Linked DNA regions of Homo sapiens. The protein of the gene in region 2 binds, or shares a complex with, the protein of the main gene of each other region. Each region holds a gene or a part of one and is shown on either strand. Other genes may lie near its edges. The genes, in order: PRPF19, PPIE and ISY1.

What was found.
Region 1: PPIE (region 2) and PRPF19 share a complex: the UniProt entries of both Homo sapiens proteins name them as parts of the XAB2 complex.
Region 3: PPIE (region 2) and ISY1 share a complex: the UniProt entries of both Homo sapiens proteins name them as parts of the XAB2 complex.

Annotation. Positions count from the first base shown.
Region 1 is NC_000011.10:60,889,932-60,896,596, forward strand, and holds the end of PRPF19 (pre-mRNA-processing factor 19), read right to left. Parts: intron 1,333-6,665; coding exon 1,235-1,332; 3' UTR 616-1,234; downstream 1-615. UniProt on the Homo sapiens protein: Ubiquitin-protein ligase which is a core component of several complexes mainly involved pre-mRNA splicing and DNA repair. Required for pre-mRNA splicing as component of the spliceosome.
Region 2 is NC_000001.11:39,741,879-39,749,004, forward strand, and holds part of PPIE (peptidyl-prolyl cis-trans isomerase E), read left to right. Parts: intron 1-16; coding exon 17-43; intron 44-49; exon of another isoform or gene 50-153; intron 154-1,337; coding exon 1,338-1,419; intron 1,420-1,945; coding exon 1,946-2,046; intron 2,047-3,496; coding exon 3,497-3,620; intron 3,621-7,024; coding exon 7,025-7,126. UniProt on the Homo sapiens protein: Involved in pre-mRNA splicing as component of the spliceosome. Combines RNA-binding and PPIase activities.
Region 3 is NC_000003.12:129,126,880-129,130,154, forward strand, and holds the end of ISY1 (pre-mRNA-splicing factor ISY1 homolog), read right to left. Parts: coding exon 3,202-3,275; 3' UTR 536-3,201; downstream 1-535. Other genes in the region: ISY1-RAB43 protein, read right to left, coding at 3,209-3,275. UniProt on the Homo sapiens protein: Component of the spliceosome C complex required for the selective processing of microRNAs during embryonic stem cell differentiation. Required for the biogenesis of all miRNAs from the pri-miR-17-92 primary transcript except miR-92a.

The DNA.
Region 1 (6,665 bases), on a different chromosome or scaffold from region 2:
CTCACCTCATATCCTCTTACCCCACTCCAGGGAGGCAGCCAGCCCCGACCTTCCACTGGGATGGCCCTTGTCAGGGGACTGTCAATCACCCCAGACTGTACACCATGGTTCCCCCGACTTTGCCACCATGACCTCCTTCCTGTTCCTCCATATATCTCGCTCAGTCCAGCCCTAGAACCTGCTCTCTGCCTGCCAACACTCCTCCCCTCTCAGGTCCCTCTCATTCCAGCTTCAGCTTCATCACCACCACTTCAGAGGCCTTTCCTGACCTGCAATCTAAAGCAGTCACGTGACCCTACAGGAATTCCCTATAAGGCACATTCATTATCAGATCTTTGTCCCGAAACCAGTCCTACCACAGCTTTTCAATCGCCAGAGTCAATAAAAAAATCTCCTTTTTGACTTATGCCAGCTGAGGACAGGCTAGAAAGCCTACAACTAAAGAACCCTGATGGAGATGCTCAGACCTCCCCACCAGCAAGATCCAGCTAATCTTCCCTGCAGGTCTCCCTCCCTTCCAGGCTTGTGTAGGAAACCAAGTCTACAAGGCAAGTGGCAGGACTAGTGACTTGAGGCCTTTAGACACAAGGTCAAGAACCGCAGGGACATGGCAAATTTCATCTGCAGATTTGTTTTTATTTCTGCTGTGCAATTAAAAAAAAAAAAAAAGGGTAAGAGCTGTGAAAGGAAAGGAAGATGGGCTTCCCGGAAGCCAGTGTCCCAGTGTGTGCTCCCTCCCCTTGACCTTCCCAGTCCCAGGTGCTCCTGGTGCAGACAGACACGGGGAGGTGGTTATGGTTATTGTTTTCTTTTTTTAATGAAACTAGATCACTGCTTACAAAACCCTGCACAAGCCCTCCTGCCCATCCCCTTCACAGTTCCCTTGGCTCAGCCTCTCCTGTCTCACAGGAACTGCAACAAAATGGGTGTGGAACAGCCACCACCACGTCCATTGAACGACAGGAAGGGAGAGGCCCTGGGCTCCGACCCTGGGCCTTAAGAGGGTGACAGTTCTTCCTTCCACATCCGTTCCCATGGGGCCTGGAGTTGCATGGATGAGGGTGGTCCATGCCACCATGGTTCTCAGGCCACCACTCAGACCAGAGTGAAATGATGTGAATGTCCCACCCCACAGAGCCCCCTCCCCCCATAGATTCCCCCCACCCCCCCCCCCAAACCCTAATTCTACCCCTCTACTGAGATGAGGCCCAGCTTCCATCAGAAGGGCCAGGGCCTACAGGCTGTAGAACTTGAGGCTTCTGTCCATGCCTGTTGAAGCGATGAACTTGGCGTGATGCCCGAAGGCCACCCCTGTGGTCAGGCCGCTATGCTCTGAGGAGAAAGATAAGAGGCAACTGTGAGAAGGCTTTTCCTCCTTTAGTCTGAACACTGATCCCTAATAACAGATTCCCAAACAACCAGGCCTTCTCTAATTAGTATTTATCACACCGCAGGCTCCTGTTTGTTTTCCCTAGGCTGACCTGCACACTACCCCCAGTGCCTCCCTCAGTGCCTGGCATTTTTCACTGGTGGGATGAATGAATAAAGCAATGCCAGCCCCCCCTTCTCACCTGAGCTTTCTGGGCAACTGCAGTTCGGCTAGGTTTAGTTGAAAAACCTCAGAGCTCAGCTTGTTTATGCCTAGTGCTCACTACTTGCTCGTAAGTGGAACAGTCCATCAGCATTTTCTAGCTCATAGTGTTCCAACCCCAGGGCACTCAGGCCCCTAACACAGAGCAGGACCAGATAAGAGGCAGATGAGGCTGGGCAACATTCCTCATGGGACTCCAGAAATTCATGAACATCTGGCCAAATTCCTTCTAGATTTAGGATCACACCTGGAGTCAACCAACTCCCCATTAAAAAGCTCACGCTGTATTTTCAGCTACCTAACTCGGTTCTAAATCAAAACACCAGGTACAGTACAGGGTGAAAACCGGTGAGCCATATTGTTAGGATGGACACCTTTGTTATACAAACACACTGAGCAGGGCTCAGGAGAATACGGGGCAAGAAGAAATATCTTGTATCCTGCTCACAACCTGCTAATGAGGACGAGAATTTCATCAACACACACAGCAGTAGCTCCCATTCATGTAGCATCTTAAGTGAGCATCAGGCACCCTGTTACCAGCATATTAGCATGCCATCTCCACAACACCAGCTGTCACACCCTGCAAAGCTGTGCCAATATTCCCATTTTCTAGATGAAGGAGTTCAAGATCTGAAAGGGAAAGTCACGTACCCAGGGCCACATAACTGTTAGGTTAGAAACCCTGTTACCCATTCTCTCAGCATCTCATGCTTTTCTTCTCTAGCACTTATAATTGCAATTAAATGTGTACATGTGAAATTAATCTACATCTGCCTTACTAACCTGACTATAAATTACATCAGTGCCCAAATCGGGTCTGTTTTATTCACTGCTCTATCCCACCACAGACTAAGACCCAATGCTGAGTGAGAACAACTGCAAATCCTGACTACGTGCCAGACACCGTTCTGACCTATGTATTCACAGACGGTCCCCGATTTACCATGGTTCAACTTGCAATATTTTCAGCTTATGATGCACTTATCAGGATGTGGCTCCATCGTATATCAAGGAGCACCTGTATGTATTTTCATCTAAACCTCAACAACCCCACTGAGTCTATAGTTACCATTCCCACTTTTCTGAGAGGTTAAGTAATATTGGATCTCAGAAAACAATACCCCAAAGTATGGTGGTTTGGCACGCTGAGGGCTTTGAACCAAGGTCTCTCTGACCATGTCCTGCCCTCCTGTCTCTTGCCCCTCTTTCTCTAAGGGCAGGTCATCTGAAAGGAACATCATGAATCCCCTTCCTGGGAATCTCAACCAGGGAAAATGAACTGGTCTCACAAGAGAGAAGACTAGATGCCAGTCTTTGTCACAGACTGTCATGCATTATTTATCTAAGGTCTGCTCTGAGACAACTTTTATTACCTGAGAGACTCTGTAGTGCACTTCCTCCCCATCCCCCCACATAACTTGTGTCACCACCACCCCCTAGAAGCCTTAGGCCCCTACTCCCTTCTGCAGTTCAGGATGCCATAGAGTCATGTGTCACATAATGACATGTCAGCGACGGACCACACAAACACTGGTCCCATAAGATTACAGTGGAGCTGAAAAATTCCTATCACCAAGTGATGTCATAACCATCATCATGTCACAATGCAATGCATTATTCACGTTTGTGGGGATACAGGTATAAACAAATCTACTACACTGCCAGTTGTATAAAAGTATAATATAGCTAGGCGCGGTGGCTCACGCCTGTAATCCCAGCACTTTGGGAGGCCGAGGTGGGCAGATCACGAGGTCAGGAGTTTGAGATCAGCCTGGCCAACATAGTGAAACCTCATCTCTACTACAAATACAAGTACAAAAAAAAAAAAATTAGCCAGATGTGGTGGCACACGCCTGAAGTCCCAGCTACTCGGGAGGCTGAGGCAGGAGAATCACTTGAACCCAGGAGGCGGAGGTTGCAGTGAGCCAAGACCATGCCATTGCACTCCAGCCTGGGTGACAGAGCAAGACTCAATCTCAAAAAAAAAAAAAGTATAACATAATTAGGTACAGTACGTTACTGGTTTATGTACAGACATATCTCAGGGACATCGCTGGTTCAGCTCCAGGCTACCAATAAAGCAAATATTGCAATAAGGCAAGGCACACAAATTTTTTTGGTTTCTCACTACATATAAAAGTTATGTTGGCCAGGCATGGTGGTTCATGCCTGTAATCCCAGCACTTTGGGAGGCCGAGGCAGGTGGATCGCTTGAGTTCAGGAATTCAAGACCAGCCTGGCCAACATGGGGAAACCCCGTCTCTACTAAAAATACAAAAATTAGCCGGGTGTGATGGTGCCCACCTGTGCTAGAACCTGGGAGGTGGAGGTTGCATTGAGCCAAGATCGTGCCACTGCACTCCAGCCTAGGCGACAGAGCAAGACTCCATCTCAAAAAAAAATGTTATGTTTACACTATACTGTAGTCTATTAAGTGTGTAATAACATTATGTCTAGTAAACAATGTACATACCTTAATCAAAAATACTTTATTGCTAAAACATGCTAACAACCATCAGACACTTCAGTGAGTTGTCATCTTTTTCCAAGACCCACCAGCAGGGTCTTGCCTTGATGTCGATGGCTGCTAACTGACAAGGGTGGTGTTTGCTGAAGGCTGAAGTGGCTGTGACAATTTCTTAAAATAAGACAACAAAGAAGTTTGCCACATCATTTGATTCTTCCTTTGACAAAAGATTTCTCTGTGATGGATGCTGTTTGATAGCATTTTACCCACAGTAGAACTTTCAGAACTGGAATCAATCCTCTCAAATTCTGCACCTGCTTTATCAATTAAGTTTATGTAATATTCTAAATCCTTCATTATCATTTCAACAATGTTCACGGCATCTTCACCAGTAGAAGATTCCATCAAGAAACCACTTTCTTTGGTCATCCCTAAGAGCTCCTCATCCATTAAAGTTTTAACATGAGATTGCAGCAATTCAGTCCCATCTTTAGACTCCCCTTTGGATTCTAATTCTCTTACCATTTCCTCCACATCTGCAGTTACTCCCTCCATGGAAGTCCTCAATCCCTCAAAGTCATCCATGAGGGCTGAAGGGTTGGAATCAATTTCTTCCAAACTCCTCTTTATGTTCATAGTTTAACCTCCTCCCATGAATCACAAATGTTCTTAAGGGCGTGTAGAATGGTGAATCCTTTCCAGGTTTTCAATTTACTTTGTCCAGATCCATCAAAGGAACCACTATCCAGGGCAGCTATAGCTTTATAAAATGTATTTCTTAAGTAATAAGACTTGAAAGTCAAAATTACTCCTTGATCCATAAGCCGAAGATTGGATGTTGCAGGCATGAAACATCTCCATCTGAGCTTTAGGGTAATGAGGTGCACTGTAATATTTTGAAAGGAATCTATTTTTCTGAACAGTACCTCTTAATGGGGGGCTTAAAAAATATTCAGTAAACCATGCTGTAAACAGATGTGTTGTCATCCAGACTTTGTTGTTCTATTTACAGAGCACAGGCAGAGTAGATTTAGCCCCACCTTCTTAAGGGCCCTACAATTTTCAGAATGCTAAATGAGCTTTGGCTTCAATGTAAAATCACCAGCTGCATTAGTCCCTAACAAGGGAATCACTCTGATCTTTGCATCTTGGAAACCAGGCATTGACTTCTCTCTAGCTGTGCAAGTTCCAGATGTCACTTTCTTCCAATAGAAGGCTATTCCGTCTACATTGAAAATCTGTTGTTGAGTGTACCCACCGTCAATGATCTTAGCTAGGTCTTCCGGATAACTTGCTGCAGCTTCTACAACAGCATCTGCTGCTTCACCTTGTACTTTTCTGTTATGGAGATGGCTTCTTTCCTTAAACCTCATGAACCAACCTCTGCTAGCTTCAAACTTTTCTTTTGTAGCTTCCTCACCTGTCTCAGCCTTCACAGAATTCAAGAGTTAGGATCTTGGTCTGGATTATGGTTTGGCTTAAAAGAATGTTGTGGCTGGTTTGATATTCTATCCAGACCACTGAAACTTTCTCCATATCAGCAATAAGGATGTTCTGCTTTCTTATCATTTGTGCGTTCACTGGAGTAGCACTTTTAATTTCCTTCAAGAATTTTCCTTTGCTTTCATAACTTGACTAATATTTGGTGTTGAGGCCTAGCTTTTGGCCTATTTGGCTTTTCACATGCCTTCTTCACTAAGCTCAATCATTTCTAGCTTTGGATTTTAAGTAACAGACATGGGACACTTTCTTTCACTTGGACACCGAGAGGCCATAATACGGTTATTAACTGGCCTAGTTTCAATATTGTTGTGTCTAAGGAAATAGGGAAGTCTGAGAGGGAGAGAGATGGGGAACGGCTGGTGGGTGGAGTGGTCAGAACACACACAGCATTTCATTTATCAAATAAATTCAGTAACTTTTATGGGCACATTTCATGGTGCCCCCCCGCCCAACAATTACAATAGCAACATCAAAGATCACTAACGGACACAATAAATCATGAAGAAGTTTGAAATACTGTAAGAATTACCAAAATTTGACACACAGACACAAAGTGAACACATGTTGTTGGAAAAATGGTACTGACAGACTTGCTTGGGGCAAGGTTGCCAAAAACCTTCAATTTATAAAAAGCAAAGTATCCATAAAATACAATAAAGCTAAGTGCAATAAGACAAGGTATGCCTATACTATACTTTTTTTGGTATTAAATATACTCTTCCCACTTATAAAAAAAAGTTAACTGTAAAACAGCACCAAGCAGGCCCTTTCAGGAGGTATCCGAGAAGAAGGCATTATCATCATAGGAGATGACAGGTTTATGCATGTTGGTGCCCCCGAAGACCTTCCGGTGGGAAAAGATGTGGAGGTAGAAGACAGTGATGTTGGTGCTATGGTTAGGCTTTGTGCCGCCACCCAAATCTCATCTTGAATTGTAGTGCCCATAATCCCCACGTGTTGTGGGAGGGAGCCAGTGGGAAGTAACTGAATCATGGGGGTGGTTACCCCCATGCTGTTCTCATGATAGTGAGTTCTCACGAGATCTGATGGTTTTATGAGGGGCTTTAGCCCCTTTGCTCAGCATTTGTCTCTCCTGTTGCC
Region 2 (7,126 bases):
TGTCTTTCCTTGGCAGGATGCTGCAGCAGCTATCGACAACATGGTATGGCTGGGAATCTTAATTCTAACTAAAGTTGCTTTTTGGTGGTACAGAGGCTCCTTATTCATATATCAGTGTTCTGGACTTCCAAAGTTACAAGGTTGCATGGGGAGGTAAAAATTCTCACATGAAAATATTCACTGTGAATTGATCACTTATAAAATTAGTTCTTACTCAGACTCCTTCGCCATTTCAGAATAATGTAAGTCCTCATCATCCTTGTTGACCAGTCTCTCACTGGCTCTCCCATGTTTAGGATAATTTGCAGACACAGTGCAAATTGATTGCACGGTGTAACTGCATATTTTGCAAAATAGCAGGATTTCATGAAGTGTTAGACCAATTTACAATTGAGAAGAGAAATTTAATTATGGCAGGTGCAAATCACTGATACAAATGATTTGGATATTCTGGAAAGGTCCTTGGGAAAAATGATGATGCTCTTTAGTATTTGTGCCTTCCTTGAGATCCTTTTAGTTTTCATGTCTGATAAGAAGTGCAAAGATACCATACTGTTGATAGAATTTTGTTGGAAAAATAATACTTCAGTGCCTGTTACTTTTCTTTCTTTCTTTTTTTTTTTTTTTTTTTTTTTAACAATCTTGAACTCATGAGTTCAAGACTTCTCAGCTTCTCAAGTAGCTGGAATTACAGGCTCAAGCCAACAGGGCTACCTGGGCTACCTGTTACATTTCTTTCTACCAAGTTACATTTCTTTCTACCGATTAGTGCATAGTTAGTCCTGAATATTAATGGTAAGAAACTTGTTTTTATTATTTTTAGTTTCATCACAGTAATTTCCCAGTCAGCCTTTTAAAATTTTTCAATTTTACCACGAAATCTTCATCACCACTTCAAGTGGAGTCACCTTAAATGACCTTTCCTGGTACCGATTATCTTTGGATAATGAGATGTTGTTTTATTTGTTGTTCTGTTATCCATTCACCAAACATATTCATCAGCTGTCAGAGATCATTTTTCTTTCATTTCAAAGCTTATCTTGACTTTTGAAGGTGAACTCAAATACTGGGAAACTGCATTTATTTTTGTAATTTTGGAGTGTTCTGAACCCAGAGTTACTTTTGGTAATACAGGTCTTTGTGTGCTGCTATGAAAGAAAGGGGTGTGAGTTCCCTGAAACCCACAGGTGGCTTTGGGGTGGCTGCATAGCTTACTGGTAGAGGCCCAGGGATTAAGGGAGGACAAATCATGAGTGTGTCTCAGAAGTATATGGAAAGCTGGCTGGCCCTCTTTTAACCTAAGAGAGTTTAAGCAGCTGGATTTTCAATCTTTTCAGAATGAATCTGAGCTTTTTGGACGTACAATTCGTGTCAATTTGGCCAAACCAATGAGAATTAAGGAAGGCTCTTCCAGGCCAGGTGAGTAGGAGCAACTTCCAGATTCCCTGTGATGTTCTGCAGTTTGGCCTTAGTTGCATTTTTTGTCTCTATTTACTTGGAAGTAGATGCTAAATGCTGCTTCCTGGTAGATAGGAGTAGATGATGGTTCACATTGGGAAGGGCATGCACCACCTTTTTAGAGAAACAAGTGAGTTTGAGCTTCTCAGCAAAGCCAAAGTGATTGTTTCTGTTATGAGAGAAATTCCTGCCTGAGCTCATCTTTCCCAGTTTTCTTGATATTCCATTCCTGGGGTCTCCATCAAGGGCTGAAATCAGCAAAGGCTACACCTTTGCTTTCGGCATAGCTATTTTCCTTAGCCCTACTGAGAGCTGGACTTCAGGGCCTACATTCTGGATGGGAACTTTCCTTACCCCTGGGAGTTCTCAGTGGGGAATTGTCTGGCATACAGGCCACATAGCATCTTCCACTTTGCTGACCAAAGCAGCTACTTTTCAGTTCAAGCTGACAGCTTGAATGAACATTTGTTTGATTCTTTCCTTTCAGTTTGGTCAGATGATGACTGGTTGAAGAAGTTTTCTGGGAAGACGCTTGAAGAGAATAAAGAGGAAGAAGGGTCAGAGCCTCCCAAAGCAGAGACCCAGGAGGTGAGAATGAAGCTCCTGCTTCCAGAGCACAGGCCGGCGCTGTCCACAGGAGACTTTTTTTTTTAAGTTTTAATGGAAATTTGCCAATATGTATATCAAAGTGGAGGGAATGAATAATGAATTCTTAGTACTTTGGTAAAGTCAATATTGAGTTCTTAGTACTTTGGTAAAGTCAATATCGAGTGAATTCAAGGGCGAAACTTTGGGTCTCTTGTCCATGTTGTGTTCTATGTGATGAGTGTCTCAGCTCTGCTCAGGTATGGATTTGTGATTATCAACTGACAGGGAGGAAGCTGAGGTGCCCCTCTTCACCCCTCCTGATCAGTCCCCCTCCTTCACTGAAGAGTTTGCCACAAGGGTCGTGGTCTTCCTATTCCTGTGCTAATGGAGGGGAGACAGAATAGGGTAGTGTCCCTTCCTTCAACCTGTACATGGGTTCAGGGTTCTCCAGTCCTACGGGAACCTGCTGGGGCACTTCCCCCTGATTCTCAGCATAGTCTCTGACAGTTGCTTCCTGGGCGTCCCCTCCTCTGAGTACTTTGTGAATGTTGTCATTCTTCTGTATTTCTTTCTTGGCTCATGGTTTCTCTCTCTTCTCTCAGCTGAAACAGTAGCAGTCTATCTCTAGTTTTATGCAGCCTCTGTTATGCTGTTGATCTTCATGGTCTCTTTCTAGTCCTGAGCTTCAGATATTTCTGCCTGCAAGTCTCATGGGCAGCTTAAGTTTGCCTAAAATGGATTCTCCCGCTTCTCTAATCCTGTCTTCCTGTGTTCTCAATCTTGGCTAATTTGCCACCATTCATCCACACATTGACCCACGCCAGAAATTTGAATGCAAATCAGAACTCATAAAGTGGCCATCACAGTCAGTGGAGTCCCCCTGGATCATCCTGTATCCTCTGCTTAGTCTTACCTACTTGGAGCACAATGCAAGGCCCAACATCTTCCACTGTCTTCTGAGCACTTAGGCCTGAGCAAGAGGGCTGCCCCCTTGCTTCCATGTAGTTAGCCAGTGTATATGCAGGGCCAGGCACAGAGGGACGAGGTGGTACATGGATGGGTCTGCCTAACTAGAGGACAGTGGGTGGGCTGGAACTGGCATTTGAAGATACTGAGAGTTGTGGATCATGGACCAGAAAAGTGCTGTTCTGTGACTGTGAAGCAAGAGGAGGAAGCAGATGCATCTGAGGGCAAGCATGATGAGATAACACCCCCGTGTGTGAGGCTCAGGTTAGCCAGTGCTGAGACCTCCTGTCGCTGGGCATCCAGCTGGGTGCTACGGCCATGGCTCCTGCCTCCTGCAGCCCTATCAGGGCCCAAGGCCTTCCCCGTCAGCACTTGCTCCAGCCTACGCACTGGAGTTGTGTTCTGGGTGGGTGTGTAGAATACTCGCACTCCTACTTAGGGCGTCAGGGAGCTCTCTCTAACTAGCAATTTCTTCTGCACCTAGGGAGAGCCCATTGCTAAAAAGGCCCGCTCAAATCCTCAGGTGTACATGGACATCAAGATTGGGAACAAGCCGGCTGGCCGCATCCAGATGCTCCTGCGTTCTGATGTCGTGCCCATGACAGCAGGTGAGCAGGACGCTGTGGTCAGAACGGCGGGACGCTGGTGGCTGAGCAGTGAGCCTTTCCCAGGTTCTTACTGCTTCACTTCTTGTGTCCTTGATATTGCTTCTGACCTAAGTTGATTTGAGGCATCTCAGATCCTGGGATCTAGTAACAGATAAGTCAGAGCAGGTGTTTTTGAAGCTTTATAAGTGCTGGCTTACTGTTTTTTAATCGTTTTTTAAAAATACAAGTAAATAATGTATTCTTTTTTTTAAAGAATAGCATATACATATATTCCAATAATATTTAAGACAATAAATTGAAAATTCATTTTCCCCTCTCTACATCCAGTCCTCAATTCTAGAAGTAACTAGTGCTTTTATTGAGTATTCTTTGTAATTTATTAAATATTGACTTCTATTCTCTTTTTAATCTAAATTTTATTATCTAGACATATAAAGAGTCAATTCAGTTTCACAAAGCTTGTTTTGAAAAAACAGTCGTCCCCTGGTGCTGTCCCTGTGCCCTGCTGCCAACACCATTTGCTGCTCCTCAGAGGAGCGGATTTCAACTCTTAGGTGTTTTGGTTTTTATTTCCATGTTGATAACAGTTTTATATTTCTACTTCCTGTTTTCCATTTTAAACATTATCTTCTGATTTTCTACTTCAGAGAACAAAGAATTAGTTTTTTAAAATCCCCTTCCCTGCCCCCTCATCTTCCCTGTATAGGTACCATAATTTTGGTTAGGTCCTAAGTTATTTTAACAATGTAAGCATCATGTGATAACCTCCTTTCATGCACAGCATTTTGTTTTGCCTGGAATTGATAATTGCCTTGTTTTTGCATAGTTTTCTGTGTAATCATTCCTGATTTTCTCCCAGACCATCCTGCTGGGGGTTTTGCATCCAGGTGTCTGCATCTTGTTAAGGGGAGATGAGGGCAAGGCTGAATTCCTCAACATTCAGTATATAAACTTTCACATAATCTCCATTTGTCATTATGGTACCTCAGCCCTCACTATGCGTAGGATGTCCTAGTCCAGAGACCCTCTGCTTTAACCTACCAAAGACTAGACCCCCAGCTGGCTACCAGGTTGGGGAGGGGTGGCCCCCAGCTGCAGAGTCAGGGAAAGGATCCCAAAGATTAACCACTTTCTTAAATGGGCTTTCAGCCAAACTTACTGTCTCCAGGATTACCTGCACCCTTTCCTCTGAGCTTTTGGAGTGCAAATTGAGTTGCTTCTTGGCTTTTACCAGCTTAAGATTCAGCTTTCTCGGGTCTGCTATATCATTTAGGACTCATCTATTTTGTTTTCTAACTTCAGAAATTTTGTTGCTGTTGTCTCTTCCTCCCTGCTTTTTAAGTTTATTTTTTGGCTATTTTAGCCACTTTAAAGTGTTTGTTAGCAGTAATTACTCTGTTCGAAATTTTTGAATCATCCTAAACAAAACCACTTATTAAAGGTACCTATTAAATAATAACTCCCCATTTTCTCCTCCCCTTAGCTTCTGATAACCTCTAATCTTTGTGTCTATGAATTGGCCTATCCTAGATTTTTCATGTAAGTGGAATCATACAATAGCTGTCCTTTTCCACGCCTTGTTGATTTTGCATAGCATAATGCTTTCAAGGTTCATCCTTGTACCATGTATCAGTGCCTCATTCCTTTTTGTGGCTGAATAATATTCCGTTGTATTTGGATAAATATCTTGTTCATTCATTTGTTGATGGGCACTTGCACATTGTTTTCACCTTTTGACTATTGTAAATGCCTGTGTGAATATCCACATGTAAGTATATGTTTAAATTCCTGTTTTCAATTCTTTTGGATATATATGCCTAGGAATGGAAATGCTTAGTCATATGGTAACTCTGTATTTAACTTTTTGAGGAAATGCCAAACTATTTTCCACAGTGGCTGGACCATTTTACATTTCTACCAGCAATGTATGAGTGTTTCAGTTTTTCCACATCTTCTCTTTTTTTTTTTTTTTTTTTTTTTTTGAGACAGAGTCTCGCACTGTTGCCCGGGCTGGAGTACAGTGGCGTGATATTGGCTCACTGCAACCTCCGCCTCCCAGGTTCAAGTGATTCTTGTGCCTCAGCCTCCCGAGTAGCTGGGATTACAGGCGTCTGCCACCATGCCCAGCCAATTTTTTGTATTTTTAGTAGAGACGAGGTTTCACCATGTTGGTTGGCCAGGCTGGTCTCAAACTCCTGACCTCATGATTCGCCTGCCTCGGCCTCCCATAGTGCTGGGATTACAGGCGTGAGCCACCATGCCTGGCCCACATCTTCTCTTAACAGGTGTGACATGGCATCTCATTGTGGTTTTTATTTTTATTCCCTACTGACTAATGATGTTGAACATCTTTTCATGTGCTTGTTGACCATTTGTATATCTTCTTTGGAGAAACATCTTTTCAAATCTTTGGCTTATTTATTAACTGGATTGTTTGTTTTGTTTTTTTTAAGAGACAGGGTCTTGCTCTGACTCCCAGGCTGGAGTGCAGTGGTGAGAACATGGCTTACTGTAGCTTTGAACCCTTGACCTCCAGTGATCCTCCTGCCTTGACCTCCCAAAGCACTGGGATTACACCGTGCCTGGCCATTTTGTTGTTGAATTATAGGAGTTCATTATATATTCTGGATATTAAACCCATGTTAAATATGATTTGCAAATAAGCATTCTCCTGTTCTGTGGGTTGCTTTGCCCTCTATTGGTACGGTTCTTTGATGCACGTCTTAAATTTTGATAAAATCTAATTATTTTTTTCTTTCACCTCTGCTTTTGGTGTGACATTTAAGAAACCATCACCAAATCCAGAGTCATGAAGATTTGCCCCTATGTTTTCTTCTAAGATCCTTTGGTTTTTCTTTTAAAAAATCAGTTTCCTACCAATTTAGTGTGGTTTTAAAAGGGAACAGAGCTCGAACATGTATATTCAATCCCCCTTCAACAGAATCTCCTATAGTCCTGGCCAGGTGTGGTGGTTTACACCTGTAATCCCAGCACTTTGGGAGGCCAAGGTGGGCGGATCATCTGAGGTAGGAGTTCTAGACCAGCTTGGCCAACATAGTGAAACCCCATCTCTACTAAAAATACAAAATTAGCCAGGTGTATGGTACATGCCTGTAGTCCCAGCTACTCAAGAGGCTGAGGCAGGGGAATGACTTGAACCCAAGAGGTGGAAGTTGCAGTGAACTGAGATTGTGCCATTGCACTGCAGCATGGGCAACAAGAGTGAAACTCCGTCTCAAGGAAAAAGAATCCCTTATAGTCCTTACAAGGTTAGTATCACAAAGGTTTATAATGAGTATCTCTTATTTTAAAACAAAAATATGAACACTAAACCAAAGTTTTTTCGAGGTTTTTTATTTTGTCCTATTTTTTAACCCCAGCGCTTTTTCCTTTCTCAATTCCAGAGAATTTCCGCTGCCTGTGCACTCATGAAAAGGGCTTTGGCTTTAAGGGAAGCAGCTTCCACCGCATCATCCCCCAGTTCATGTGCCAGGGCGGTGATTTCA
Region 3 (3,275 bases), on a different chromosome or scaffold from region 2:
GGCCAGCCCTCCACGGACACTGCCTTCTGCATCCTTTCTGGTGGAGCAGGTGGGCAGCAAGTGAGATGCCAGAAGGAGCTGGGTGCCGCTGCCCGTCCCCCTGGATCCCTCTGCTTGCTAGTCAGCTGGGTGCTGGGCCAGGCCTGATGTCCATCCAGGCGGGTTCCTGCTTTCAGTGCTGCACAGTGAGCAGGGTGAGGAGCCCCAGCTAGGGTCCAGATCCTGCCAGTGTTTCAGGGAATGGGGTGTGCATGCGCAGCACTGCAGAGCAAGTGCAGGGCAAGAGGAGAAAGGTTTTCATTTCTTCCTTGTTTATAAACTGCCCAAGGGCAGATGGGGTCAGCCAGTTGGGGATGCAGCGGGAGGAGGTCCAGGAGGCCTGGGTGGGGATGCTGTGACCAGTCTTAAAGCAAAACAGGAGGGAGGTGGTGTGTTTTAGACGCTGGAGGACAGGCAGTGTGAGGGAAGAAGGAAGTTGATGGAAACATGACTATGAAAAAGTAGCTTTTCGGGAAACCACAGGCAGAGCCAAAGCTAAAATAAACCATTCAGTAGATTTTATTAACCAAACAAAGCCTCCTGAGATTGGTTCTGTCACCTCGGAGCCACAAGCTGGGAAAAGATAACCACACCCACCCAGCCAGCTTCCCCCACCCCCAGCTGTTTCCAGGCCTGGGACTGGAGCCCTGCTGAGACCTTGTCCCACATCTAGGACCCTCTAGGGCCTTTGGGCACAGACAAGTAGCAAGGGCCTCTGCCAGGAACACCTAGAGGATGTCCAGCTGGGTGCTTCTCCACTCTCAGTCTGTTTGCTCAAATGTGGAATTCTAATCCCTGGCCAGTTTGCATCCCGGGGATCCCTGAAGAGATCCCAGGAGGGGAGTGCTTTGTGCACTGAAGGCGTGGAACAGGGCACTGGAGGAGGAAGACCCAGAGCCCTGGCTCTCAAGACAGGCCTGGCTCCAAGCACCTGCCATCCTTCCCAGGGAGAAGGAAGGCCTGATGTCTGGATTCCCCATTCTCTTCTGAATGCCAGGAAGCACCAGAGTGCGCGTGTGCCCCTTGGAAGACAAACCCACAACCAGGCCTGTCTGAGGCCGGCCATCCGCACGCTCCCAAGAGGCTCAGACCTGGGTCAGTCTGTCCCTAGGGCCCTCTGAGGCCTCTGCCCAAACCACAGGACTGCCCAGACCCCAGAGCAAACTGAGACAGCACAGGTCCACTCCTTGACTTCAAAGTATGGAAGGTGAGGCTGGGCCCAGAGGGTCTTGCTCAAAGCCCCCACGATATTCACTCCTGAGTCCCCACCTGCAGGCCCAAGCTGGGTGCTGGGTCCCAGAGGCGAGTCTGCCTTGCTGCCTCCAAGGGCTCCCAAAGCTTCAACCTGGACACCTCTCCTCCCTGCACACATTTGCCTCCGGGCTTGACTGAGGGCTGGGATTGGCCAGCCCAGCCCTCAGGGAAGCCAGGAGGCAGGGGGGCCCCTTCCCCATCCTCACCTACACCCTGGCTACTCCCATCCCCACCAAGCCCACCCACCTCCTGCCAGGGCCTCTGCCCCAGCCTCCTCCTGACCTGGTCCTGCCTGGGCCTCTCCTTGTGGCCGCACGGAGCGTCCTCAAGCAAGTCCCTTAGCCACTAGCTCCCGACTCCCTCACTCAGACCTTTTCCACAGTCCTTGTGGCCCTCGGGCTCCTTAGAGAGGGCCCAGCACTGGCCACTCTCCCGACTTGGCCACACACAGCCACACACGGCTCTGCCACCCCCAGTCTGAGCTGCTCCCCGCAGACCAACCATCCCAGGCCTCCCGCTGTGTGATGGGCTTCTCCAAGCCAAGAGTTCCTCCTATTCCCAAACAGCCTGAGCTGGAGCCCCAGGCCCCAGGAACAGCCATCTGGCCCTGACCCTGAGTTCCCAGACACTCCCATGACCCTGCAGAGGGCAGGAAGCCAGGCACCATCTTGCCCAGGGGCTACAGCCGCTGACCATGGTTCCCCACTGGAGAGCTAAGCCCCAGTTCAGAGGAAGCTCTGGACTCAGCTCGTGTCCACTGTGTGCTTTCAGCAGGCCACGGTGCAGCCCACTGCAAGGAGCCCTGTCTACAGCTGTGGCCACGGACGCCATGGTGGGTCGGCTCACTCCCACCTAGACTCCTGGGATCTGGTCCTGTCTTTGCCACACTTGGGGCTGGGGCTTCAGGGACTCCCCTGCAGGAAGGCAGTGCCCCTTAGTGACTGGTCACATCCTAATGCCACTGTCACCTCAGAGCCGTTGGCCCAGGGAACAAGCTGAAGACATGGAGGTTTCCCTTTCTTATAAAAATCTTTAATAAAAATAGGTTTCTGCAGAACAGGTTATAAAACAGGAATAGCAAACTCAAATTCCTGCCACCCAGGCAGGAGCGAGTGGAGCAGGTGGAGGGGGGCTAACGGAGAGCCCAGAGCAGCAACCAACACAGAGGGACCTGGTCATTGACTTGTGGGTTGCGTGCATCTTTTTTTTTTTTTTTTTTTGGGACAGAGTCTCACTCTGTCGCCAGGCTGGAGTGCAATGGCACGATCTTGGCTCACTTCAACCTCCACCTCTCGGGTTCAAGTGATTCTCCTGCCTCAGCCTCCCAAGCAGCTGGGACTACAGGTGCATGCCAGTACGCCCAGCTAATTTTTTTGTATTTTTAGTAGACATGGGGTTTCACCATGTTGGCCAGGATGGTCTCCATCTCTTGACCTCGTGACCCGCCCGCCTCGGCCTCCCAAAGTGCTGGGGTTACAGGCGTGAGCCACTGCGCCTGGCCACATCATCTCATTTTTCAAGAGATGTGTCTTTTAGAAAATTTGCATTTTTTAAAATTATACTTTGGTCTGCAAAAAATTGCATTTTTAAATGTTTGCCACTAATTGATTCTTCTCCCCTCAAAATGGCAGTGCAAGTCAAAATAAGACACAGGCAGCCAGTTCGCAACCTGTTGTATACACTCCACAATAAAAATAAATGGATCCACACAGTAGCAAAATATGTGTACAAAACCTACCAGGAAGACCAGGGACAGACCCCTACCCTCCGGTCAACATGAGACAAGGAGAGGGAAGGAAGGCTGAGAATGGGGCAGGAGCCCTTGCAGCACCAGCCTGTGTCTGCAGCCCTGGGTCCTGAGGTACCACTGGGGGATGGAAGAACTCCAAGGAGAGCCCCAGCTGGGTCCTAATACCCCAGGAGCCTTCTGGCTTCTTCACTTTGGGCCTGCAGGGTCTCGCTTGCATACTTCTGGAGGAGTT